Homo sapiens: one gene and its partners. The protein of the gene in region 6 purifies or fractionates together with the protein of the main gene of each other region. This does not show direct contact. Each region holds a gene or a part of one and is shown on either strand. Other genes may lie near its edges.

The links.
Region 1: the proteins of ST13 (region 6) and TMEM37 fractionate together in Homo sapiens (co-fractionation; one large-scale study listed by BioGRID). This does not show direct contact.
Region 2: the proteins of ST13 (region 6) and DSTN fractionate together in Homo sapiens (co-fractionation; one large-scale study listed by BioGRID). This does not show direct contact.
Region 3: the proteins of ST13 (region 6) and ASF1A fractionate together in Homo sapiens (co-fractionation; one large-scale study listed by BioGRID). This does not show direct contact.
Region 4: the proteins of ST13 (region 6) and ASF1B fractionate together in Homo sapiens (co-fractionation; one large-scale study listed by BioGRID). This does not show direct contact.
Region 5: the proteins of ST13 (region 6) and PRDM1 purify together in Homo sapiens (affinity purification with mass spectrometry; one large-scale study listed by BioGRID and IntAct). This does not show direct contact.
Region 7: the proteins of ST13 (region 6) and NELL2 purify together in Homo sapiens (affinity purification with mass spectrometry; one large-scale study listed by BioGRID and IntAct). This does not show direct contact.

The regions. Positions count from the first base shown.
Region 1 is NC_000002.12:119,434,854-119,439,004, reverse strand, and holds the end of TMEM37 (voltage-dependent calcium channel gamma-like subunit), read right to left. Parts: intron 2,715-4,151; exon of another isoform or gene 2,620-2,714; intron 2,117-2,619; coding exon 1,565-2,116; 3' UTR 501-1,564; downstream 1-500. UniProt on the Homo sapiens protein: Thought to stabilize the calcium channel in an inactivated (closed) state. Modulates calcium current when coexpressed with CACNA1G.
Region 2 is NC_000020.11:17,594,075-17,597,574, reverse strand, and holds part of DSTN (destrin), read right to left. Parts: intron 1-3,500. UniProt on the Homo sapiens protein: Actin-depolymerizing protein. Severs actin filaments (F-actin) and binds to actin monomers (G-actin). Acts in a pH-independent manner.
Region 3 is NC_000006.12:118,900,652-118,904,151, reverse strand, and holds part of ASF1A (histone chaperone ASF1A), read right to left. Parts: intron 3,387-3,500; coding exon 3,271-3,386; intron 1-3,270. UniProt on the Homo sapiens protein: Histone chaperone that facilitates histone deposition and histone exchange and removal during nucleosome assembly and disassembly.
Region 4 is NC_000019.10:14,130,090-14,133,589, forward strand, and holds part of ASF1B (histone chaperone ASF1B), read right to left. Parts: intron 1-3,500. UniProt on the Homo sapiens protein: Histone chaperone that facilitates histone deposition and histone exchange and removal during nucleosome assembly and disassembly. Cooperates with chromatin assembly factor 1 (CAF-1) to promote replication-dependent chromatin assembly.
Region 5 is NC_000006.12:106,089,336-106,092,835, forward strand, and holds part of PRDM1 (PR domain zinc finger protein 1), read left to right. Parts: intron 1-3,500. UniProt on the Homo sapiens protein: Transcription factor that mediates a transcriptional program in various innate and adaptive immune tissue-resident lymphocyte T cell types such as tissue-resident memory T (Trm), natural killer (trNK) and natural killer T (NKT) cells and negatively regulates gene expression of proteins that promote the egress of tissue-resident T-cell populations from non-lymphoid organs.
Region 6 is NC_000022.11:40,829,140-40,832,639, forward strand, and holds part of ST13 (hsc70-interacting protein), read right to left. Parts: coding exon 3,430-3,500; intron 1,818-3,429; coding exon 1,701-1,817; intron 536-1,700; coding exon 487-535; intron 1-486. UniProt on the Homo sapiens protein: One HIP oligomer binds the ATPase domains of at least two HSC70 molecules dependent on activation of the HSC70 ATPase by HSP40. Stabilizes the ADP state of HSC70 that has a high affinity for substrate protein.
Region 7 is NC_000012.12:44,775,316-44,778,815, forward strand, and holds part of NELL2 (protein kinase C-binding protein NELL2 isoform b precursor), read right to left. Parts: intron 2,000-3,500; coding exon 1,927-1,999; intron 1,810-1,926; coding exon 1,727-1,809; intron 836-1,726; coding exon 707-835; intron 1-706. UniProt on the Homo sapiens protein: Plays multiple roles in neural tissues, regulates neuronal proliferation, survival, differentiation, polarization, as well as axon guidance and synaptic functions.

The DNA of each region.
Region 1 (4,151 bases), on a different chromosome or scaffold from region 6:
ATCCCTCTCTGGGCCCTGACTCCCCACCTCCATACATCCCCTCCCCGTGAAGAAACCAGGGGGTTACACATCCCCTTTGCAACTTGTAGATTGCTCCAGGTTCCCATTTCCCAGGCTAAGATGCCGCCAGTGTGGTTGATGAGCTCTGTACTCTGTAAAACTGAGCAATTCATGGAAACCTTTCCAGGATGATCTCCATGGACTCTGGGCACCTTGGTGGTTCAACCTTAAAGCCCATGGCCTTATATCCTACAAAGCAGACAGCTTCATGACTCCATGCATCCTGGAATAAAAAATTTAAAACATCACAATAGACGTAGGTATAGGCACTCAGCCCAGACCAGGAAAGGAACCTGCAGCAGTGACAAGACCGGGGCAGAGACCAAAAACCCATGCAATTGCTGGGAGCCAGAATTCAACAGGTGAGGGAATGGGAAGGAGTCAGTGTAGAATGAAATGGGCTGAGGGCAATAACATCACCTACTTCTGGGCAGAAAAAGGACTAGAAAGGGAGCACTTTAATGAACAGAAGTACAGACGTGCTGGCAAGGATGGAAATCTCCACTGGTTCCTGGCCCCCTTCACCTCCATGCATCCCCAGCATGGGTGTTAATCATTACCCAAGCTCTCGCTGTTCCCCCTCACCCCCTGCAGAGTCCAGCAGGTCTAGATACGTGCTCTTTGAAATGTGTTCTGGGATTAAAAATGGTGCCCTGAGGCTGTCTAACCCTCACAAAAGACAGACACATGCACACACGGGCCTTGGGGAGGGCTGTGTATTAGCAGTCAGGTGGGCCCTCCTGGGAGAGCTTGCTCAAGAACTCTTCTCGGAAGGAAACCCACCTTAAGGTAGGGTTCTGATAGGCAGAGCTCCCAGAGGCACAGCCAGCTGCTAGAAGATGGGGTTATCCAGGGTTTGTAAGGTTTAAACAACGGGCAGGGAGGCAAACCGAGTCAAATGGTTTGGAAACCTACTGTGTGCAGGGCATTCTGAGGGAATCCTGAACTCTGCCTCTTTGGCATGACCAAAGCTGAAGCCAGGGACATACATACGAAGGCCCTTTGAGCTGGTGGAAGAAAGTCCTAGGCACTGATTGGACCCTTAGCTGGAAGAATGATCCATTCTTAACAACCCTGGGAGCCCCAGGGATTCTGCAGCCCCTATCCCAGCACGTGTCAATGAAACAGGCATGAACTATCCTTGGCTGTGCAGCTAGCTCAGGTACCAGTTACCCCTGTGCTTCCAACTGTATTCCAGTCCAGGGAAGAAAATTCAAGAAGGAGTTTTAAAATGTTTTTTTCTTCCTCTAAAATCAACATCTGGCTAAGCCTGTGCAGTTGGTGGCACTGAGGCACCCTCCTGGCCTCTGGCCCTGCAGACCAGGTGCAGAGGCCCCCGGGCCATTTCTGGCTGACCACCCACAAGTTATCGGCAAACAGGCAGCCGTTTCAAGGCCCTTGTCCAACCCAGCCCCACCAGAGGCCACATGCTGGAAAAGTCCCATTTTGACCATATTTTCTTGTGGAATCTGATGTCCCTGGAGGGGGCCTAAAATTTCCACGGTCATTCCCAGGGATGGGTGATGCTGTTGATGTGAAGGCCGCTGATGGCGTTCAGGAAGAGGAGGAAGGAGGCAGTGAATTCGCACCAAAACATTAGGGTGAAGCCGATGAGTGTGACTTGGTTCCTGAGGAGGATCACAAAACCCAGGAGCCCGCCGGAGGAGAGGACGAAAGACACCAGGAGGAGGATGGAACCCATGACCCACTTGCACTGTGAGTGTTTGTCCTCGCACAACTGGGACACCATGAGGAACTCCAGGCCAAAAATGGCGGCCACCACGGCCAAGGCGCCCACGCTGCGTACCAGGCCCATGCCCACGGCCAGCCCGGGCACATGGGCCTGGCCCAGGTCTCTGAAGCAGATCGTCTGGTTGGTGGTGGTGCAGAAGTGCCAGAGCCCGAAGAGGCGGTCCTCAGCCAGGAGCCAGTGCCCATCACAAATGGAGACCGAGGACAGGACCACAGCCAGGGCCACACACGTGATGATGAGGGTCCGGATGAAGGATTCAAAGAAGGACCGGCGGGGCTGCCTTTGGCCCAAAGGCCTCTGGGCCTGGAAAAAACCGTAGGAAGCACCCTGTCAGCCACAGCCCTGCCACGCCCCCAGGAACCTCTGCAGGGAAGACCCCTGAGCCCTCCATCCTGCTCCGCACTGTCTTATTCTCTGCTTGGTCTCCTGTGAAGCCCGGAACAGACCAGACCCACCGTTTGGGGGGAACCCTTCCTCCCTTCCAGACCTGTGAGCATTTACCATCCAGTATTCACCAGGCACTAAGAGCTTCCTGACCTTTCTTTCTTTTGTGATCTTCAGAGTGGGTGAGAAGTCCAAACCGACTGGCAAATCTGAGTCAGTTCTGAGTTCAGAAAACCTGTCGTGCCTGCATCCCATGACCTTGAGCATGCAGCCTGCCTCGGTTTCTTTGTACATAAAACAAGAATACGGCCTGGCAGAGTTGCCAGGGTTGTACCAAGCACTGAGACATTAGCACACCAATACACAGTTCTGTTTCCCTCCATCTCCCCAGGATACACGATTTTGTCCTAATCCCCACCCACCTGATGATTCGGGAGCTGTCCACGTTCAGCCCAGGACTCTAGATTATTGCCTCGTTTTTCTTGGTACTGAAAGTGACATTTGCATCTTGCCCTCAGACCTGTGCGGCCTGTACCCTACCCAGAGCTTGCCAACCCCATTGTCTGCTCCTGCAGCTTCTGGGCATGGGAAGGCCATTGCAGCTCTCCTCCACTTCCGGTTCAGCCCTGGAAGGAGGCGCCCCCACCCCGGTCTCCTGGCAAGCCAGGCTAGGTGTCCAGTGAGGTGTCTCATCTCACAGTTCAAGGACACCACCCGGGCACTGCACCCAAGCCCTGACCCAGAAAGCAAAAGAAAGACTTCAGGAACTCTTTACACAGCCCACAAGCCTCTCACAATCCGCTCCGCCTCCCCACCCAACCTCAGCTCCCAGCACACTCCCCTCTCCCCATGTCTAGAACTTTCTTTCCTCAGATGACTGGCCCTTAAGCCTGTAGTGGCTCTTCTGCAGCTCCTGCCACCCCTCCAGGACAACACCTCTTCTCCATTCTTCATGTCTCAGCTTAAAGTCTCCTCCACAGAGAGTGCTTTCCTGCCCACTCAACCCAGAGTCAGGCCCCTCCTGGTATTCTGTGTCAGGCACCTGTTCAAATTCTTCACCATTCTGAGGACAGTTTGTAGTTACATATTATTTCTGTCTCATTCCAACACTGTGTGCTCTGGGAAGGCCGCCCCCTACCCCCACACCACCACATTCTGTGTTTAGGCACTGCTGTGTCCCCAATACCTGGGCATTCAGTGGGTGCTCAAGGGAGAGCTGTGAGATAAGTCAAAGGTCATTGGCAACCACTGTCACTTCCGTCTGAAGCTCCTTTAAACTGAGTCTCCTGCACAGTCATACATTAAATGACCTGCTTTGCAGTGTGTCTAGAAGCTGCCCAGGTTACACCTCGGTTTGGGAGGTATGCAAAACAGGCACGCATGACGGTCACTGCTAGGACCCAGGAGAATGGAGCAGTGAGGAACATGGGGTGTGTCCTATGCCATGGGCAAATGGAGGCTTCCTGAGGCAGGTCTGGGCCACTCCTCTCTGTGTGAGACATAAAATAAAGCCCTGCTTCTGGGAGACTCCTGTGGTCAAAGAGCCCAGCAAGAGTATCTGCTCACATGCCCCAGACACAGGAGCTACCGCTAATTTCAACCCCAGGGATACAGGAATAAGGATGCAGTTTGCTTTCAGCACCTCTGCCTTAAGTAGGATCCTATTTTATTCTTAAACCTATGAGGTTGATAAAGTAGGAAGCTCCATGGTGGGTGTACAGAGAAGGAAACTATGCAGAGGGCAGGTGACTTGCCTGAGATCACTCACCTAAAGCACAATGAAGCTCTTTATGGCTGCCCAGACAATTGTATGATATGCAGGAGGTGGAATCCGTTCAGCGAATAAATACTGACTAGGGCCTTCTAAGGACAGGGCCTTTGTGCTAGGGGCTCAGTACTGAGCCCTTACAGCCCTCCCTACATGGGCTGTAAGCTCCTGGATGGGAGGGACCGC
Region 2 (3,500 bases), on a different chromosome or scaffold from region 6:
TGTATGTTATTCGGGTGATGGATACCCTAAAAGATCTGGCTTCACTGCTACCATCCATGCATGTAGCAAAATTACACTTGTACCCCCATACATTTATACAAACAAATAAAAATAAAGTTGTCACTTTAAAACACATGCAAGAATCCTGGGAGAAAGATACACTAAGATCCTAGCATTTACTTAATATTAAGGTAACTGGGCTATTTCATCATCTCATTCATTAAAGATCTCTAAATAACACACTCCAATGCCATCTACTCCACATTTTCTGTTCATAAATGAACATTCACTCTAATAAAGTGGCAGAAACAGAAAATTAGGACTAGAAAACTCATAAGTACACAATATTACCACATTCCTAATTTTAAAAAGCACTTTTCTTAAACCTTTTACTGCTTTAGGAGTAGCATATTTCTGATCTTTACAACGTATCTTATGTTAAGCAAGTTAAGAATCTCCATTTTGCAACAGATGAATAAAATGTTCAAAGCAACAAAAATTGAAGAACTAGAAACAGATCCCAATCCCTCTAACTCCCTAGTCCATAATGTTGAAGTCACATTTGACCCAACAAGCAATTTCTAAAAGCAGGAAGGCAACATCTAAAGCCTTATATTCAATCAACCAATCTTTAAATACATCAATCAATATCTAAGCATCTCAAACATTCTAAATTCTGATTTGTAAATTAAATCAATGATGTACTAGTAATCAAAAACAAAGTAAATGTGCATTCTGCAATTATAAAACAGATAAATCTCAGCCAAATCTGGCTGTAACTTACAAGCTCCTTAAAAGCCTCAGTAAGGAAGAATTTTGTCTTTTTTTCTATCAGAAGTGATGTCTGTGGAGGTTTCTTATACCATTAGACACTTGTGCTTGAGGAAATTAACACTGAATACTTGAAGGAGAAACTGGCACAGAAACTGGAAGCAGAAAACCAATTTTGACACAATTACAAATATTCAGAGAAGAAAGCTCTGAACTACAGCAGTGAGGTTAAAAACAGAAAAATTCAAGGACATGTCAAAGTCAAACCAATATAGCTGAATGAGACACAAAAGAGTGGTATCAGAGAAGCCCCAGGATTCTCTCGATTAGTGACTAGACTGCAATATATGAACAGAAAAGGAAATATGGCACAGTACGACACATCCACTCTGAAGACTGTGCAAGACATCTAGGTGGAGATGACCAGACAGTGGCAGAAATATGAGCACGGATCTCGTTGGAAGGCTTCACCTAATCCATATTTTGGACTAGCCCACACCATGGGGTCACCAACATTAAGCAGCAAAAGAAAAACCAATCTAGTTTCTCACCACTGAGTACGTAAAAATTAAAAAGAGAAACCCATCAAGGACACTAAAAAGAGGTAATCAGAAAACTAAGAAGAAAAAGAAGGAAGAAAGCAGCATCTTAGAAGCAAGGGAGAATATTTTGAGGAGGAAAGTCATCAACAGCCAATTCTGCAGTATTTCAGAGAATGAAAACAGATCGCTGGGCTTGGCAATTGGGCCTCTGAACATTTCAACAGATGGGAGAAATGGGACAGAAGTCAACCATAATGGACTGGGGACCCATGGGGAATTGAAGAGGTAAAGACAGAAAACATAAGATGGTTAACAATGAAGAAAAAAGGGAAGATTGAATGGTACTTCATGCAAGTTGTCTTATGATTGGGGAGATGTAACTGTTCTAGATATTTAAGAACTTGAAGGAATAAAGAGGAAGAGCCAAAACATTAAAAAAAAATTAAAACATACACTGAGTACTTACTATTGCTAGACACTTCTAAATCACAACAATTCTATGAGACAGCTACTATCACTATTTGCATCTTAAAGATGCATAGCAAAATTAAATAATTTGCCCAGGGTCACAGAGTAAACAATAGAGGAATTGGGATTTGAACTCTGGCAATTTGGCTCCAGAGGAGATTTTTTTTTTTTTTCCAGATGGACGTTCGCTCTTGTCATCCAGGCTGGAGTGCAATGGCACCATCTCGGCTCACTGCAACCTCTGCCTCCTGGGTTCAAGCAATTCCAGAGGAGATAATCTTAATCACTCATAAAATTAACAATATCAGAGATCTAAAGAAATGGGTAAGATCCACAGCACAGATGGGAGAGTTAGCCTAAGAAAAAGATACACATTTTTTTCTCTGAAACAGGGAGGAAGGGAAAATGACAGTTTTGAGGTGGAAGGAAGATACACTGCCAAAAATTGTGTCTGAAAGATTCTATTTTCTCTGTGAAGTATAAGGCAGGAGGAGTAGGATGGGTTTGAGGGCACTCCTCCAATCTACTACTACTAACAATTCAGAACAGCTATGACGGGGAGTTCCAAAAGGAACTACCTAAGGACAAGAAAAAGGGCTCTGGGGACCTCCAAAAGGTCAGCTGAGGTCAAGGGGTGAGGGTGGTAGGACAATGCAGTGGAAAGCAGAGGCTGATGGCAGTGTGGAAGGAAAGGACGAACTCTGCATTCTTCCTCAGAGAGTTTACCCAAGCTCAAGCTTTCAATCATCTAAGCCAAAACTTAGTTCAGACTTCTGCTCTTCTGAGCTTCTAGTCTTTACATTCAACTTCCTATCTCACATCTCCAGTTGTGTGTCTCAAAGGCATGTGATGCACAACATGTCTAAAATAAAAAACAAGCTGGTCCATTTCTAACCAGTCTTCCTTTCTCAGTAGCTATCACCACCCTCCTAGTCACATAAGGCTCCAAGCCTAAGAGATGTTCTTAGCAACTCCTCCATTATCTTACTCTTTGGATTTTCATCTTTCTCTGATACATTCATCTCATTTCACCCTCAGTCCAAGCTTCCATTGCCTCTTACTTGGACTGCAGTAACTCCTCAAGTGGCTGCAGAGGAGGGAGATTAGGATATGTATACATCATACTGTTTTCTCTTCTTGGCTGAACAGGAAAGACTGCATTCCCCAGCCTTCCTGGCAAGCTGAGTTGGCTGTATGACTGAGTTCTGAACAGCCATTTGAGTTCTGAACAGCCAAGCTGGGCCCAGTTATGTAAACTACTTCCAGTCCTGGCCCTTTAAAAGTGATCTTTAAATACACTAAATACAGCTTTTTAGATGTGAATCCTACCACAATAAAATGATTTTTAAAACATCAAAAATTAAATAAAAGTTAAATAAAAGTGATCTTAAAGCTCTGTTTTCTCCCACCAAGATGACCTTGGTAAGCATACTTCATGATAGGAGAAGGCTGCCCAACCCTTCTGGACTCTGCGTGACAGAGACAAATCTTTACTGTGTTAAGTCACTGAGATTTTGAATTTAATTTGTTATTGCAGTTCTAATACAACAAGACTGCCCATACCAACTGCCCATCACCTTTACCCTCCAATTCATCCTCTACATAAACATGAATCTGATCACCATACTTAGAACAGTCCAGTGGCTTTCCATTGATCTGAAGGTAAAAAATAGCTATTTATTTATTTATTTATTTATTTATTTATTTATTTTTGAGATA
Region 3 (3,500 bases), on a different chromosome or scaffold from region 6:
CAGCTCTAGCCTATCATTTGCACTGCTACCAGCATTAACACAGATATGTTCTTTCTCTTTGGTTTTAAAACCTCAGATTATTAAAACCCTCAGAAGAGTATTCCCTTTTCTAAGGGATAAAATCTCAGTTCTTTAACTTCATTGACAAGGCCCTTCTCAGTTTGTCTCCAGCCAATATCTCCATTCATACCTCCTTTAACTCCACCATTGTTCTAGAGATATGAATCACACAGGTTCTTTAAAACGTGGTGATAATCTTTTCACGCTCTGAGCACGGTGGCTCACGCCTGTAATCCTAGCACTTTGGGAGGCTAAGGTGGGTGGATCACTTGAGCCCAGGAATTTGAGATTATCCTGGGCCACATGGCGAAACCCCATCTCTACAAAAACAAATTTAAAAAAGAAATACTTCACCCCCTGTGCTTCTAACATACTGTTCCCTTGGCCTGAAAGGTCCTTCGCTCACATCCTGAAAAATTCATCTTTTAATCTTTTTTGGAGCTTACATCGAGTGTATTCTCAGTGACGCCCTTTCTAACTCAGAAGGTAGAATCAATAGATTCCTTTTTTATGTGCTGATATTTCTTGTCACAAATTATCTAAGAACGTATGCCCTGTGATCTAAACATGTTTATTTTTCAGTCTTCTCTTCTAGATGCTATGCTTTATCCAGGGCAGGAGTCCCATCCAGTTCATCTTTATAATCTCGTGTGGCTCAGCTCTGAGCACTTAGTATTTTGGAATTCATTTGTAAATCAGTTCCTGCCCTGAAGGGGTTTATGATCTCTTGGCAAGACACCAGGATAGGGGACAGCCAGCCTTGTCCTGGAGAATATGCTGTTTGTCTTAGAGATTCTACACACCCCTGCACAGAGGGGTTAGATTACTTTCAGTGTACCCAAACGGATTCTAATATACCTGAAGTGGGTGGAGATGGGAAATATATAATAGTTCAGTACTGCTATGAGAACTCTTCCCCTTCCCTTCAGTAAATTGGTTCCCTTCAGTAAATTGGTTCTAGGCATGTTTCTGTTTTAAAATCTGTTGTAAATATAAAACATCTTTTAAAAAGCATTTTACAATTTGAAAAAGATTCAGTTTGAGCAAATTTAAGTAGAGAAGCTTACAGGCCTTTCAAATAATTTAGGATGCAGAAGTAATGAGCAGAGATCTTTGTTTTGACTCTAGCTGGCAATACTAGGCAGATGTCTGGACATCTTCCTGCTAGCCTTTGACTCACTCAGAAGAAAGACATGTTTAACTATTTAGAGAGGCAAAATCATGGCAGACCAAGAGATTACTATAGTAGTTTTAAAATACAAAACAAAAGCTGTAATTTAGTCTCTTTCTGTTGATAATGGTGAATTCTGTAAAACCTTTAGGCTGAATATACATTGTACCTCCTCTGTTCTTTTTGGCAACATGTACACTGACACCAAGGTAAAACTACGTGAAGATCACCAGCAGGAAATACTTTTGAATACATTTTTTTTGCTACAGCACTTTCAGCCAAAAGCTTAGGAGTATGCTTAATAACAAACACAAAAGATTTTCAAGGGTTTGTTTCAATAACAAGGCATTTATTTGTAAGTTCTTATAGTAGCCAAAAAAAAAAAAAAAAAAGTATTATCAGTACCTGTCAACCCAGGTTTCTTTTACTGTATCATGAATTATCAGTAAAGTATGGGTTCCTTAGGCCTGTGGGTCAGAGCAAGTCCTGCTTTTTTATATAACAATTTCAAGAAGTTAAGAGAATAAAAATGTAGTTCTAATTTTAGGAATAGGGCACTCTTTATGAGTGACTGATTATACTGTTTTATTCCCCATAACATTTTAATGAGATAGAATATTATCCACATTTTATAGAAGACTGGAATGACTAAGGGAGGAGGTTAGAGAGGTAAAGCCACACATGGCTAATACAGAGGTGTCGGGATTTGACCTATATCTATAACTGCAGTGCTTCCTTCTACAGAACAGGGCATTCTGTTACCCATGTCTTTTACATGGTTATGCACTCACACAACTTTGATTAACAGCACTTTTAATTCATATATTTGATTAGTATATTTGAGCTTTTCTTAGCTATTTCTTTAGATACAGTAAATTATTTGTTGCTTTTTAATCAAAAGTACTAAGGCTAGGAAACCAAGATTCTAAATTCTGTATTTAGGACAGGGGAGGGAAAGGTAGCAGCTCTAGAGATGGCATGTGTCTAAGTGATTCTTTGCCAGTTTCTGATGGGATTATTTGACCAATGGTATTCATTTAAATTGGTCCCATCTGTGAAGTGAGAAAACAGAGGTCAGGCATAGGAAGAGTTAGATTTTCTTTCTGGATTAAGTCTTTTCAGTGAGTTCCACTTAACTGATGGGACATTGCTGGGTTGAAATACTTGTAACAGAAATTAATAGTAGTTTTAAAAAACCTATGGCTAGTTACTCTTTGGTCTATTACAAACATCTCCCTTATAAATAAGCATGCATAATTGAGGAATAACTGAATGGTTCCATATAGCAATTTAACATGGATTAAAAGAAATAACACTTTTGAATATAGAAGACAATGTCTGAAGCCTTGGTATAGATCCAAATACTCTCAGTGGTATCTAAGAACAAAATTTTTATTACTAGAAATTCTCTTCACAAATACCTAGTGGGGTAGTAAATTTGCAAAAGTAGTCCTCTTATAAGATAATGTAGATTATAAGATGCTTTAGTAAACTCTGGAATGTCATTCCAATGACCCAAGACCACACATCTCTATCCACTAAACGTATCTGTTAACCTAGCTCAACTACTGATTATGCTGAAATAAAGTTGTTTTTGTTACATCACCATCAGTTCCAGTGGCTGAAACCATAAACTGAAGATGCATATTACTAACAATGCCAGTTAGTTTTAGATATTTTGAATCCATGTTTTGGGTTGCTAGACAGCCACCTTGGAAGTCTGATACTGAGGTGCTATTCACAGGAAGAGCCCCAAATTCACCACCCTGTGTGCCATGATACAGTATAAAATTTACTGTAGGTTGTTCATCTCTCTAAAGTAAACGTCACATTAACATCTCTCAGCATATAAAACCAGGAAGTAAGAGTTCCTCTGTGACACAGAGACTGCCTAAAACATGATGGAAACAGATTTAAAGTGAATGCAGCAGAAGCAGTTCTTTAACCCAAAAGGAAAGGGATAAGGGTTATAAGATAATAGATAATATAGTCTACTTCGAAACATATTTGGCATACACATTTACCAAGATTAATCTTACCTGAAATACAAACATATGCCTTCCTGCGGGAACAGGACCCACTAAAACAGAGTCTAAAACTTGATCGTATTCTTCACTTTCTGCAGAGCCCACATAGATAATTTTCCATTCCAAGTCTAGGGTTAAAAAACCAAAGCATTATTTCATATTCAGTAATTACATTACCAGATGACATCAAAGACCCTTTTAATGTCCACTTAGCCACTTACTGGCTTTAAAATTGGCTTCTC
Region 4 (3,500 bases), on a different chromosome or scaffold from region 6:
ACTCTGTTGCCCAGACTAGAGTGCAGTGGCACGATCTCGGCTCACTGCAAGCTCCGCCTCCCGGGTTCATGCCATTCTTGTGCCTCAGCCTCCTAATCAGCTGGGACTACAGGCACCCCCCACCACGCCCGGCTAATTTTTTTTTCTATTTTTAGTAGAGACGGGGTTTCACTGTGTTAGCCAAGATGGTCTCGATCTCCTGACCTTGTGATCCGCCTGCCTTGGCCTCCCAAAGTGCTGGGATTACAGGCATGAGCCACTATGCCCAGTCGAGAATCATCTTAAATTTGCTGAAGTGCCCAGGCATGGTGATGTGCACCTGTGGTTCCAGCTACTTAGGAAGCTGAGGTGGGAGGACTGCTTAAGCCCAGGAGTTCAAGTCCAGTCTGGGCAACATAGTGACACCCTATCTCTTTAAAAAAAAAAAAAAAAATCTGGCTGCAGTGTTATAAGTAGAGACATACGTGTATGATTTCATCTCTAAATATAATCTTTCTTTAGAATTATACATGGGACACAAATCACCAATACAGCAGGAACTCATAGCTATGAGTACAGGACACAGCTGTACACATGACGTGTGTACCTAACCTTCTGAGCAATGTCAAGGCAACTCAACTGTGTCCCATGTTATCTCTCTGCGCTAACTTCACAAGCTAGTCCCTGTGCAAGACATACCTCCACTGTGTGTTTGTGTGTATATATATATATATATATATATAAATGATAAGACTAAAGACATGTACACAATTAGTATAGCTGAACTAGCTAAAAAGTCTGCTTCCTGCTTTTTTGTTGTTGTTTTTTTGAGACAGTCTTGCTCTGTCGCCCAGGCTGGAGTGCAATGGCGCAATCTGGGCTCACTGCAATTTCCATCTCCCGGGTTCAAGCGCTTCTCCTGCCTCAGCCTCCCAAATAGCTGGGACTACAGGCACCTGCCACCAAGCCTGGCTAACTTTTGTATTTTTAGTAGAGACAGGGTTTCACCACATTGGCCAGGCTGGTCTCAAACTCCTGACCTCAGATGATCCACCTGCCTTGGTCTCCCAAAATGCTGGGATTACAGGGGTAAGCCACTGTGCCTGGCCATTTTTTTTTTCTTTTTTTTTTTTTGAAACAGAGTCTCGCTCTGTCACCCAGGTTGGAGTGCAGTGGCACAATCTCAGCTCACTGCAACCTCTGCCTCCCGGGTTCTAGCGATTCTTCTGCCTCAGCCTCCTGAGTAGCTGGGATTATAGCTGCGTGCCACCATGCCTGGCTAATTTTTGTATTTAGTAGAGCCGGGGTTTCACCACGTCGGTTAGGCTGGTCTCGAACTCCTGACCTTGTGATCCATCCGCCTCGGCCTCCCAAAGTGCTGGGATTACAGGTGTGAGCCACCACACCTGGCTTTTTCTTTTTTTTTTTTTTTGAGATGGAGTCTTGCTTTGTTGCCCAGGTTGGGGTGCAGTGGTGCAATCTCGGCTCGCTGCAAGCTCTGCCTCCTGGGTTCACGCCATTCTCCTGCCTCAGCCTCCCGAGTAGCTGGGACTACAGGCGCCCGCCACCACACCCGGCTAATTTTTTGTATTTTTAGTAGAGACGGGGTTTCACCATGTTGGCCAGGCTGGTCTCGAACTTCTGACCTCAGGTAATCTGCCCGCCTTGGTCTCCCAAAGTGCTGGGATTACAGGCGTGAGCCACCATGCCAGGCCTCCTTTGTTTGTTTGCTTTTTGCCTTTGTTCATAATCAAAGATGAGCTCTGCTGCCATAACAACTTCGTTATTTCTGGGTCAGAACATCTGGCTTCTATGACTTATTCAACCAGTGTCTGTTGAATTTCTCAGCTAAATGTGGAAGAATCTATTTCCAGATGTGGAAGATAAAAGTGCAAAGGGGGCTTGGGGCCCCTGAGAAATAGGGGTCACCCAACTGGGGCTTAGGGGTTAGGGTGGTTTTTTTTTTTTTTTTTTTTGAGATGGGGGTCTTGCTCTCTCACCCAGGTTGGAGTGCAGTGGTGCAATCATGGCTCACTGCAGCCCTGACCTCCTGGGCTCATGCAATCCTCCCACTTCAGCCTCCTGAGTAGCTGGGACCACAGACACGTGCCACCAAGTCCCGTTAATTTTTTGATGTTTCTGTAGAGACAAGGTTTTGCTATGTTACCCAGGCTGGCCCAAATTCCTGGGCTCAAGAGATCCTCCTTCCTTAGCCTCCCAAAGTGCTGGAATTACAGGCATGAGCCACCTCACACAGCTGGGTTGGGGGTTTTGTCAGATTTTCAGTTGACGCTGCTGAGAGTGAGGCAGATTCTCCCTTTTTCATGGAGAGGAGTCCAGAAGGAGGCAGAAAGCAAGCTGGCAGATCAGTCACAGAGAGCCCTAGGACTGGAAGAGCCAGGATTTCTCACTTGAGTTACTCAAAGGAAAAGCTTTATCATCCAGGTACAATTAACAATAGCATTCTCTGGCCAGGCGCTTAGGATTCAAAGTGTAATCCCAGCACTTTGGGAGGCTGAAGTGGGCATATCACTTGCGATCAGGTTTGAGACCAGCCTGGCCAACATGGTGAAACCTCGTCTCTACTAAAGACACAAAAATTAGCCGGGCATGGTGGCTCAAGCTTGTAATCCCAACTACTTGGGATACTGAGGCCGGAGAATCGCTTGAACTCGAGAGGTGGAGATTGCAGTGAGCTGAGATTGCACCACTGCACTGTAGCCTGGGTGACATAGTGAGATTCCATTTCTAATAATAATCATCATCATCATCATAATCATACGACGGGCACGGTGGCTCACGCCTGTAATCCCAGGCCGAGGCGGGCGGATCACAAGGTCAGGAAATCGAGACCATCCTGGGTAACACAGTGAAACCCCGTCTCTACTAAAAATCCAAAAAGTTAGCTGGGCATGGTTTCGGGCGCCTGTAGTCCCAGCTACTTGGGAGATTGAGGCAGGAGAATGGCGTGAACCCGGGAGGCGGAGCTTGCAATGAGCCATGATCACGCCACTGCACTCCAGCCTGGGTGACACAGCGAGACTCCATCTCAAAAATAAATAAATAAATAAATAAATAAATAAATAATAATAATAGCACTTCCCTTCACTGCATTTTGAGTGTCCTGATTAGGCAATAAATTCTGTGGTCATTCCTATCTATGCTCCACCCCTGAAACAGGGAATCCTTCCTTTCTTTCCCTGGATTGGAGCAAAGATAAAGAATTTAGATTCAAAACTTCAGTGCCAATACTTCTACAAACTGGCTGTGTGACTCTGGTGAAGTCACTCCATTTCTATTAAAAAATGATCAGCAGAGGCTGGACGCAGTGGCTCACGCCTGTAATCCCAGCACTTTGGGAGGCTGAGGCGGGCGGATCACCTGAGGTCAGGAGTTCAAGACCAGCCTGGCCAAGATGGTGAAACCCCGTCTCTACTAAAAATACAAAAATTAGCCAGGCGTCATAGCAGGCACCTGTAATCCCAGCTGCTCGGGAGGCTGAGGCAGGAGAATCGCTTGAA
Region 5 (3,500 bases), on a different chromosome or scaffold from region 6:
CAATTCTATTACTTCCTTCAGAAAGTAGGGAAAGGGGATGGTTGGCCGTAGAAATCCAGAATTTGCTACTGGGACTATTCCTTACAGCCGTGTCAAATCACTTTCCCCCTTCCCTAAGGAACAGTATTTGAAGGAATCCGGGAGACTAGGAAATGCTTTGTCTCTTTCCTGTTTGTGTGTCTGAGTCCAGTGTTTTTGGTGAGGGGGAGACACAGCTGTCTAAAATTAAATAGAACAACGATGCTCAGTCTTTCTTTTTTCCCCCACTGCTGCGTGAATGGAGGCAGATTTTATAAAAAATAAAATTTAAATTCTAGTTGTAGTTGAATGTTACCAAAAAATTTAACCCCAGAGGTCAGCCTTAATTATACCTCTTCCTGAAAGTAATGCTCTTCTTATAGAAAGTCTCTCAATATGTGGCCCTTGGAATGAATGTAGGATTTGTTTGGGTATATGAGGTTTGACTATGGCTTTAAAAAGTGTAGTGTGTTTTTTCCCCATATCAAGTTTGACCAAATATTCGTCTGTTCCCAAGCTTCGTTTGTGCTGTGTTGCCCTGTCCAGTCCTTTGGGACTGAAGTAAAAATCTCCATTCTGTGGGTCATCTTTGCCTTTTAATTCTATAATGTTCTTATCGTCAGTTCAGCTCTTAGCTTAAGTTTTTCAATTTCCGTCATTCTCCTTTAAAATCATAGCTAAGTCAAGTAATGCTCTTAGATCATTTAGTTCAAGGTTCAGAAAGACAGTCACTTACCCAAAGGCATATAGGTAAAGCCAGACCGGGGACTTGAAGCAAAGCTTTTCTGACTTCTCCAATGAGTGCTTCTCGATTATGCTACACTGGCCCCTCTTGGTGTCACTGTGGTTTTAGTTATCATCTTAATATATTTCAGACCAATCCTTAAGCTATTTTGTGTTTTTTTCCCTCTGAATGTATAACTTCCTATTTCAATATATTAAGCAACCAAAAAACAGACAATGCCTGTGTTCCTGAAGAAGGTCCTTCGAAACTAACCTAAGAGGTGAGGGTTCTCTTATCCTATTTCCCTATCTTGCATTTAACTGAAGCGCTTGAATAGAGGATAGTATGTCTTTAAACCCTAATCATAAAGTCAAGCAAGGAGTAAACTTGAATGTAATACTGTCTTAAGCTTACTCTGGAATTTGTACCTGTTTTTCTGTTTCTCTCCTTTGTTTTTGAACTTTGGGAAAGGACAGCTTCCTTTAGAAGGTGAAAGAGGATGGTGGAGTTGAGCCATTAAGGGTAGGATAGCTGCAAACTAGTTCCGGGACAGCAACATTAAGGATTGATGAAATGTTTACATTATCTTTATTCAGTTAGTTCTTTAAGTTCCATGAGCCATTGAAATAGGAAGAGTCTTTCTACATGTACTTTTTATCTGACTTATTAATCTTGCCCTTCTTTAAATGTTTTCGTTTAAATAGCAAAAGATGTTACAATATGTACTATTGTGCTGACATACCGGGGAATTTTTTTTTTACAAGACCATTTTTCATTATGAATTTGTACCATGTGTCAGCACCTTTTTTTTTTTTTTGGTTAAAACAAAACATACAAATCATATTTCTGATCTTGACCCTCATTTTTAGATTGGGTTTAGAATCATTCTGCACCTTTAATGAAAAACTGTTCTTACTTCCTATTTCCAGAACTGAAATCAAATATAGACCTACTATTCAAAACTTTGAAAATGTTTTAAACTGATGGGTTATTCTTTTATGGGGGTTTTCCCCTTGTCCTCCTGAAATAATCTCTTATGACTACTTGACTACAGAAAAATCAGTTCAAGCATTTATATTTTAGAAGCGTTACCCTGTAGAGTTTCTGCCGTCGGTTGAGACTGCTTGCACTCAAGAGGCACTGTGGCTCTGTGAGTCTCACCTCCCTGTATCGTGGCTGATAAACATCAGACAGATTGTGAGGACTCCTTTGGTGTCCATTCTGATCGAAATCCATTATTAACTCAAGCCATCTGTAAAAAGTATCTCACCATAACATGCAATTCTCTCTTCATGTTGCCTTTTATTTGAGAAATGATGTACCAAGGCATCACCATGTCTCCTTTAATAGAAAGATAATGAAGAAGGAAACCTTCTCCAAACAACTTTGTTCACTTCACTCCTTTTAAAAATGGGGTGATTGCCGGGCGCGGTGGCTCACGCCTGTAATCCCAGCACTTTGGGAGGCTGAGGACAGCAGATCACCTGAGGTCAGGAGTTCAAGACCAGCCTAGCCAACATGGTGAAACCCCATCTCTACTAAAAATACAAAAATTAGCCGGGCGTGGTGGTGGGCGCCTGTAATCCCAGCTACCTGAGAGGCTGAGGTAGGAGAATCGCTTGAACCTGGGAGGTGGAGTGAGCCGAGATCGTGCCATTGCACTCCAGCCCAGGCAACGAGAGTGAAACTCTGTTTCAAAATAAATAAGTAAATAAATGCCATTGCACTCCAGCCCAGGCAACAAGAGCAAAACCCTGTTTCTAAATAAATAAAATAAAATAAAAATGAGGTGATTGCAGGCTGAAGGTCTTGGTCACTACTGAGTTCTAGTTCTCTCAAGACAAATATTCATATGGTCAAAACAGAATTATAATCTAACGAGTCATTCTTATAGAGTGGGATTCGGGGAGGGAAAACAGATAGCTAGTAATTTAAATGATCTTAATGTAATTTGGGGAGAGGATGATCAGATGACATTTAGACTTGGATATAGTTTCTGCTTCAAACCCACGCTGTGTGTGTCTGTTTGCATACTCTCTAAAGAAGGAATTTGAAAAAAAAAAAAAAAAACAAACCTATATTGTCCTTGTTATCAGCCTTCCATTAAGCGCTCCAACTCAACCCATCCTAAGCTGTCAAATCTCCTTCATTGTGTAAAATTGAAAAGAAGCCCTGTGTTTTGTCCGGAAGCTGTGGAAACTGTGGACGGCGGGGTGTGTTCTGTAACTGAGGCCACAGACAGAAACAAATCTGCTCAAGTGGTGGAGGGGTCTGCACCGCACATAAAGAGCTTCTGTGGGAGCAGGTGAAGCAAGGAGGTATTGAAGCCGGGTGTCCTCTTGCTGTTGAGTTTATAGAAGGCACAGAGCGGCCTGTCCCCAGCAGTAATTCTTTAGGACCCTGGTCAGTTCCAGTGAAGTTTCCTTCTTGAGTTAGGTGAACACATTCTTTGTCTTTTTAGCACTGTGAAGTTTAAGCTACACACCAAGTTCCTCCTTAGTATTTGCTTGGTTCAAAGATAAACTGTTACAAACTATGGGTCAGGGAGATGGGTAGTCTAAGATGCACATTCTGGATCTTTCTAGGACCAGAGGGAGACTTAGTACTTGGTTTTTTCACTTCCCTTTAAAAACAATCCTGGTTCCTGTTCCCCCTCCAAAGTTACCTGGACAAGCACCATAGTCTTAGAGTTTCAGCTTTTATGGCGTCTGTGTCTCAGACGTGCATTTGAGATGAAGATGTTTACTGTATATTAGAA
Region 6 (3,500 bases):
CGGATCATGCAACTAAGTTCTAACCAGTGACATATAAGCATACGTAGCCTCTAAAAACTTTCCTTAAGAGAAAGCTAGTTACCATTAAACAACTGGAGACAGTTGTTTAAAAAACAAAAAATTAAGTCTTGTCCTGGTCTTTATATAAATTCCACACTGTCGTAATCAGGAAGTACTCAATAAATCTTCTGCGTGCCTTTTCCGTCTCTTCTATCTCTGTGTTAGTCCTGTCCTCTGGTATTCAAAGATTTGCCTCACTAGCAATTTCTGATCACATTTGAAAGAAAAATACGCTATTTTTACACTGTACAAAAAACATCATTTTTATGCCTAATAATTCCATCATTTCTTTTACCTAGGTTCTTCATGAATATCACTGTATAAGAGAACAAAATCAGAATATCACTTTATAATAAATATTAAGTATTATATTAAAATATCACTGTATAATAGAACAAAACAGTTTTAACTTTTCTTTAAATATACCTGGAAAAGAGCCATACTGAGCTCCTGACTGTCGTCTGGCTTCTTCCTCCTTTGATACAAAAGGAAATAAATTATATAATAGAAGAAGAAATAAGTGCTGTCCATGCAACCTGTCCATGCAAGACCATGAAAAAATTGTAAAATAACCTAGTAGATGGCAATACTGAACTGAAGGATATACTTCATACCCCCTTCAAACATTTTTTCCAAACTGGATTCTCAGTGGGCATTATTCTTGGTAGTAATTTCAAGTAAAGTGTTTTACTTCTACTCTGGAAACAAGTAAACCTGGAAAACAATTTATAGTACTAATATGAAAACTCTAAATTCATCCTGGCTTTAAAACACCCATAGGGAAGGACATGGCTAGATTACCAAGACTACCATGACTTTTGTTTCCTAGGTACATCTTTTCCGTTATTCTCCCTACATAATACAAATGTAGATTTATTGATTTGTTTTTGCTGCTTTTTAAAAGAGAAAATGAACAAAAAATAAATATCCCTCATATGTAGTTTTAAAATTATTGAGGAGATATATTGCTTTTAAATATCAAGGAGATAAATTACTTTTAAAGATTATAAACTATAACCTTAAAATCAAGTATGATGCTTAATATTAAATGGACAAAAAATTAGAATGTAACATATTATATAATACAGCCTTAGGTTCTTTCATGTTCTTTCATTCAATAATGTTAGAAATAAGTAGGTGAATTATTGTAGCATCACACTATGTTGCCCAGGCTAGTCTCGAACTCCTGGGCTCAAGTGAACCTCCCACCACAGCCTCCCAAGAGCTGGGACTATAGGCACTTGCCACCTTGCCCTGCTAGAATCATTTTTAAATAGCAACACATCCACTGTTGGAAGAGAGGAGGAATCATAAATTTAATTAATCTGGCGAAGCATCCTCAAAAGATCAAACAATAATACTGTCACATTTCAATTACTTGACCTGGAAAAACAACTGATTTTATAAAAACACAAACAAGAATATAAAATGGTGAAATAAAAGCTCACTGAATAATTTAAGACTAAAAATGTCCCCCAAATTAGATACAGTGAAAGGAGACTCCCCATAAGTAATATCATTACTCTATAGAACTGTAGCCAGCATTAAATAAAAGAGCCAGGAATTAAAATTTTAGTGTCCTAATGCCTCTACATAATTTGCCGTATTTTCCTTTCATGGCTTAGCTATAGGAAATTTACCCTCTGGGCTCTCTCATGCTCTTCTCGAGCCTTCTTAACTCGTTCTATTCTTTCTTTGATCTCTCGCTCTTCACGTTTTCGCTCATACTTTCTCCGATGTTCTGCAATTTTCTGTGCCTAGAAAAAAGAGCCATAGCAAAATAAGCTTGCTCCAAAAGCTGAATAACATCAACACAAATATTCTTTGTAGAGAGATGTTTAATTCAACATGCAGTTCAGAAAAATGACAGATTTGTCTTGTACAAAAAGACCTAACACAAGCTAAGCCTTTAAGAAAACCAACCTCAACTGCATGAGGCACTGTAAAACAGAGTAAAGGGGCCTGGGATTTGAAGTTAGAAATGTTATAATCTCAAACAATTAAGCTCAAAGATTAACAAACAGGTTTCTAAGTGCATGACAATTCTTGCCTGCTAGTTTCTATCAGATACACAGTGTTTAGGTTTCAGACGGACAGCTGAATTCAGTAGGAAGAGTATTATTACGGATGTCTGCCGTGGGAAGGCAGAGACTGGGAACTCATACCCCAAGTATATGCCACAGTATATTTAAGTTTCTGTATCCATAAAATGGGAGAGGAAGAAATATTTAATATTATCAAATTGCTATAGGGATTAAGAGGGAAAAATGTAAATATGTATACCAGACACTAGTATCAAATAAATGCTCTGGATGTTATTTCCTCAGAGAATAAAATACATTTAAGAGATTCATATTCAACTGTCACTTTAGCTTGTTTACACTTTGCTGACAAAGTTACAACTTTGCCCTATTTTAAGAAGAAAACAGAAAACCAAATGAACTCTCTGGCAGTAAATAATTAAATTCAATACAATTCCCACTATCTTAAAATCTCTGAGAGTAAATTCTTGACAGCTGAACTTCCCACAAAATGAAGGATTTACCATGTAAACACATTAAAATTATTTTAACCAACAATTTTAGATAAAAATCATCCTTAAAAGCTGGAATGTTCTACTTTTGGGATTCAATATTATTATTTTTAAAAGATTGAAACTTCTTTGTTTTATTAAGACAGCCTCGCTCTGTCACCCAGGCTGGAGTGCTGTGGCGTGATCTTGGCTCACTGCAACCTTCCACCTCCCAGGTTCAAGTGATTCTCCTGCCTCAGCCTCCCGAGTAGCTGGGACTACGTAGGCGCATGCCACCACACCTGGCTAACTTTTTGTACTTTTAGTAGAGACAGGGTTTCACTACGTTGGCCAGGCTGGTCTTGAACTCCTGACCTCATGATCCACCTGCCTCGGCCTCCCAAAGTGCTGGGATTACAGGCATGAGCCACCGCGCCTGGCCGGAAAGCCTGAAACTTCTTAACTTCCACAAGGTCTTCTTGCTTTATAAAGTGGTTGTACACACCTATGATAAATAAGGACACATCAGATTCAATCCTGGGTAATGCTAATTATAGATTTTCTATTTGTTTCCTTGTTGTAAACCTGATACCCCCTTTTCTAATTTTCTGGTTATAATTCCACTGCAGGCTTCCAAACAAAGTAACAGAGTTTGCTCTAATAATGCATGAGAAATGAAAGCATGAAAACCTAATGAGATCTCCAGAGTCGAGCACAAACTTCAGCAATTACAGATTATATCTTCCAATGGTTTGTTTCTTTGCCTGTTTTTCAGATGAATTACAGCTGTCGGGGGCTAAGCACTACAGCGATGGAGTATTTAACTAATGACTTTCCCTTTCTCTACTTTGACATACCCTAGGTTGAACTTCTTTCAGCATTGCACTAGCATCTTCATCATAATCCAATTTACAGGCAAGGGCAAGAT
Region 7 (3,500 bases), on a different chromosome or scaffold from region 6:
TTTGAATAAACTGGATGAACTTTGAGAAATTTTTTTAAAAGCCTAATTCACATAGATGTCTGACTTCTTTCCAGAAAACCAGCTTTAACAGATGAGTTCATGTGTAATTTAAAAGTTTAAAACCAAACTCTTTGAACTTTTCTTTGAAAATGAACATATATTTCTGAAATCATAATGCAATAAAATATTCTACTTCATTAGCGAGCAATTAGCAAAATCACATTTATTTAAACTTTATAATTTGTATTCCACTGTATTAATAAACTATTAGATTGTCCCAATCATTTAAACTCTATCTAATTTGCTTATATTGCTCAATCTGGACACAATATTTAATGCTGCATATGACTTAGTTTCATGAAAATGCATTCATGAAAACACAAGGGAGAAAAATCTCTGGAAATGTTAAGGATAAGAGGATAGTCTTCTTTAGGAATCACTTTACCTAATTTAAATTGCTAACTTCATGTGTGTACCAATAAACTTAAACTTTATAGCATTCCTAAACCATAATCATCTTTAGAAGCTAGAAAGTGTTTTTAATAATGCAACACAGTTCTTTAGATATGACCAGGTTTGTTGACACTTTAGTGTTGTGTCTTGAGGAAATGGGTCTTGAAATTTTCATGATTACATTGTTTTAATAAATTTTTAAAGAGTGGGAGCATCTGAGTTCCCTTAGTCTCAACTCAAATAGAAGCCATACCAGGCATGTGCAGTTCTTACAGCCGTCTATCCAGGACTCAAATTCTCGGTAGGTGGTTCCCTTCATGGTGCAAGTCCTTTCACAATAGCACTGATCCAATCTATTCATTCGCTGTTCAGCTCGAGACAGCTGTGGCACAAAAGAACGGGTTTTACATTGTTCATCCTTCCAGCAACACAGAAATGTGAAACACTCCGCAGGTATCTTTTTTTTAAAGTATGTAGCAATGATGATGGCTGTGCTTATCAACCACTTGCCATAAACATATTTAAGACTTTAATTTAATTTAAAAGAATGTTTTTTTCTCTCCTCTTCTTTTTGTGATAAATTTGCTCCCTGCCTTAGAAACAAACAACATAATTTATAAGACATAAATCAAAGGTTAATTCAAAACATCACTCAAATGCAGAGAAGCACTTTCCATTTAAAAGAAAAATGTTTAATTTCATTTATATGCTTCTTCAAGTAAAAAAATAAAATTCAGAATTTATGTTGTATAAGAAACAAATCATACACCATACAACACAACCATCAGGTATTCTGTAACTACTATACAAAATTACAAGTCTAGTGAAATTGTAGGTAAACCTGACATATGCTTAAGATATTAGTAAATAATCCTAGAACTGTAACATAGTGGTAGAAAGCATTTATGGGACCATTTCTTTGATACAATTCTGGTGTCTATATTCTTTACACTGTCCTACTGCCTCCTTGCTTGTAATGAAAAACTGAATAAAAATAAATAATAATAAAAGCTAAACAATAAATCCTCCTGTAGTAAGCAGTGTATAAATTAGGTAATCTGCCTCATTCCTGATTTACTGAATTATTTGTTATACAGATGGCTAGGGTTTTAATATTTATAAGCCTTTCCTTAAGCAGAGATTTAGATTCAGTCCTAGCAAACAGTATAGTATAAGAAGAGCCTCGAAGGTGAAAATCTATGGTTATAAATGGAAGTATTGGGAACATCAAGGATTTTTAAGCTTCCACACTGTATTCTTGAGTAGCTTTTACCTTGGCTGATGTTTTGGCTAAAATATCCTGTAGCTCCATGATTTTCTGCACAAGTCCATGGAAGTCATTGCAAGTTGGACAGGCTGGAATTACAAACACTACATTTGGTCAAGATGCATTTATAAGGGGTTCAATCTGGTTAAGTCTATGCTGACAAGTAATATATGGGGACTCCACAGTGCAAGAACTAATAGACTTACTGCGATTAAGATCTGGGCACTGAGCAATAAATCCCTGGGGCATGACAAGTAATTGGACATCTTGCATTATACCCTGTGTGTGAAAAATAGAAAAAAAAGACATATTACTTTCATTTACCCAAATTATGTTCAATGGTCAAGTTCATGAAGGAAAATATTACAGAACACACTCACTAAAATCCCTGAGTAAAAAGTCTTTGTTAATACATTATTTCCACTTCATACCAAAGGGAAAGAAATTCATCAGGCACAATAGATGATTACCCATGTATTCTCTTATTGATAATGTTTTTAAAGCCTTAAGATTAAATGTCAAGATATAACTAAGAGGCAATAGTTATGTTGTTTTGAGAAGTTATTTTTAGTTAGCCACTGACGGGCTTGAAAATGACCTTTAAAAAAATCAACCTGATAATAATTTCTAGCTTCAGCAACTCTGAAATTGATACCAATTTTAAATTAACTTTAATTATTAAAGAAAAGGATAGAAAAACTGAGTCATGAAAGCATGCTCATTTGAGCATCTCATGAAAGTGGGATCTTTTAAAACTAATTTCTCAATTTAAAAAGGACAATAGATTCATTAAACAGCTACAGCAAAATATAGTGATGAGTTCTTATGAGTACAGAAAGTTTAAAATGAAAATTTTTTAAATGTCAGCTGGAAATGACCTGTTTTACATAGAAAATTTTATCACATGTTTATAGGCAAAATTTACATGCATACTTAGTCATTAAGGTATAATTAGCTTCCAGCTTGCTGGGCTCCTAAAGCAAAGACCAATGGTGGCTCAGAAATGATCTATCAGACACATCCAGCTGTCTCTTTTATCTGCCACACTCCCCCCATTTCTTCATGGCCTTTATATATTTTATTAAATTAATATTTTACTTTATCCATTTGAAAAATGCAAACAAAATATCTAATGATAGGAATAACTGTACCAACATGACATCAATATAATTTTAAACGTACCTATAAAGATTTACCAGTCAAATACTGGTCTCTATGTCTTGTACATGTTTAATCTGATTAATAGCATGTATCAATGTGAACGATAAATATTTAAGTATTTTTACTGTGTGGGTATTACTGGATCCAGTGTGTGCTTGGGCCTAGATTGATGAAATAAATTGTGTACCAACTCCTATCACTTAGAAGCAGCAACATAAAAACAAGGCTATCGTGTACGGTTATATAGTTTATGCACTGTACAACTCTAATGGATACTATTTATGGACTACAATAAAGAGAATGACCCCCAGAGTTGTACACATAATTGACATGTGGAGATTTTGAGGCCACACTTAGGCTCCATGGGAAGGACTGTCACGATTAAATAGAGATGAGATTTGGGACTCACAGCACACATCTGCTATCCCTTACCTGGGAAAAGCGCATGGTTTTAGGATTTGCAAGCATGGAACCAATTTCCTATTTGTGTCACTTACTATTTGCCTATCTTTAAGCAAGTTACTTTACCCCTCTGTGCAGGTTTATGCATAATAAAACAGAAATAAAAAATGACCCTGCATCAAGACTAGCAAGGCTACTATTAGATGGAATCATATAT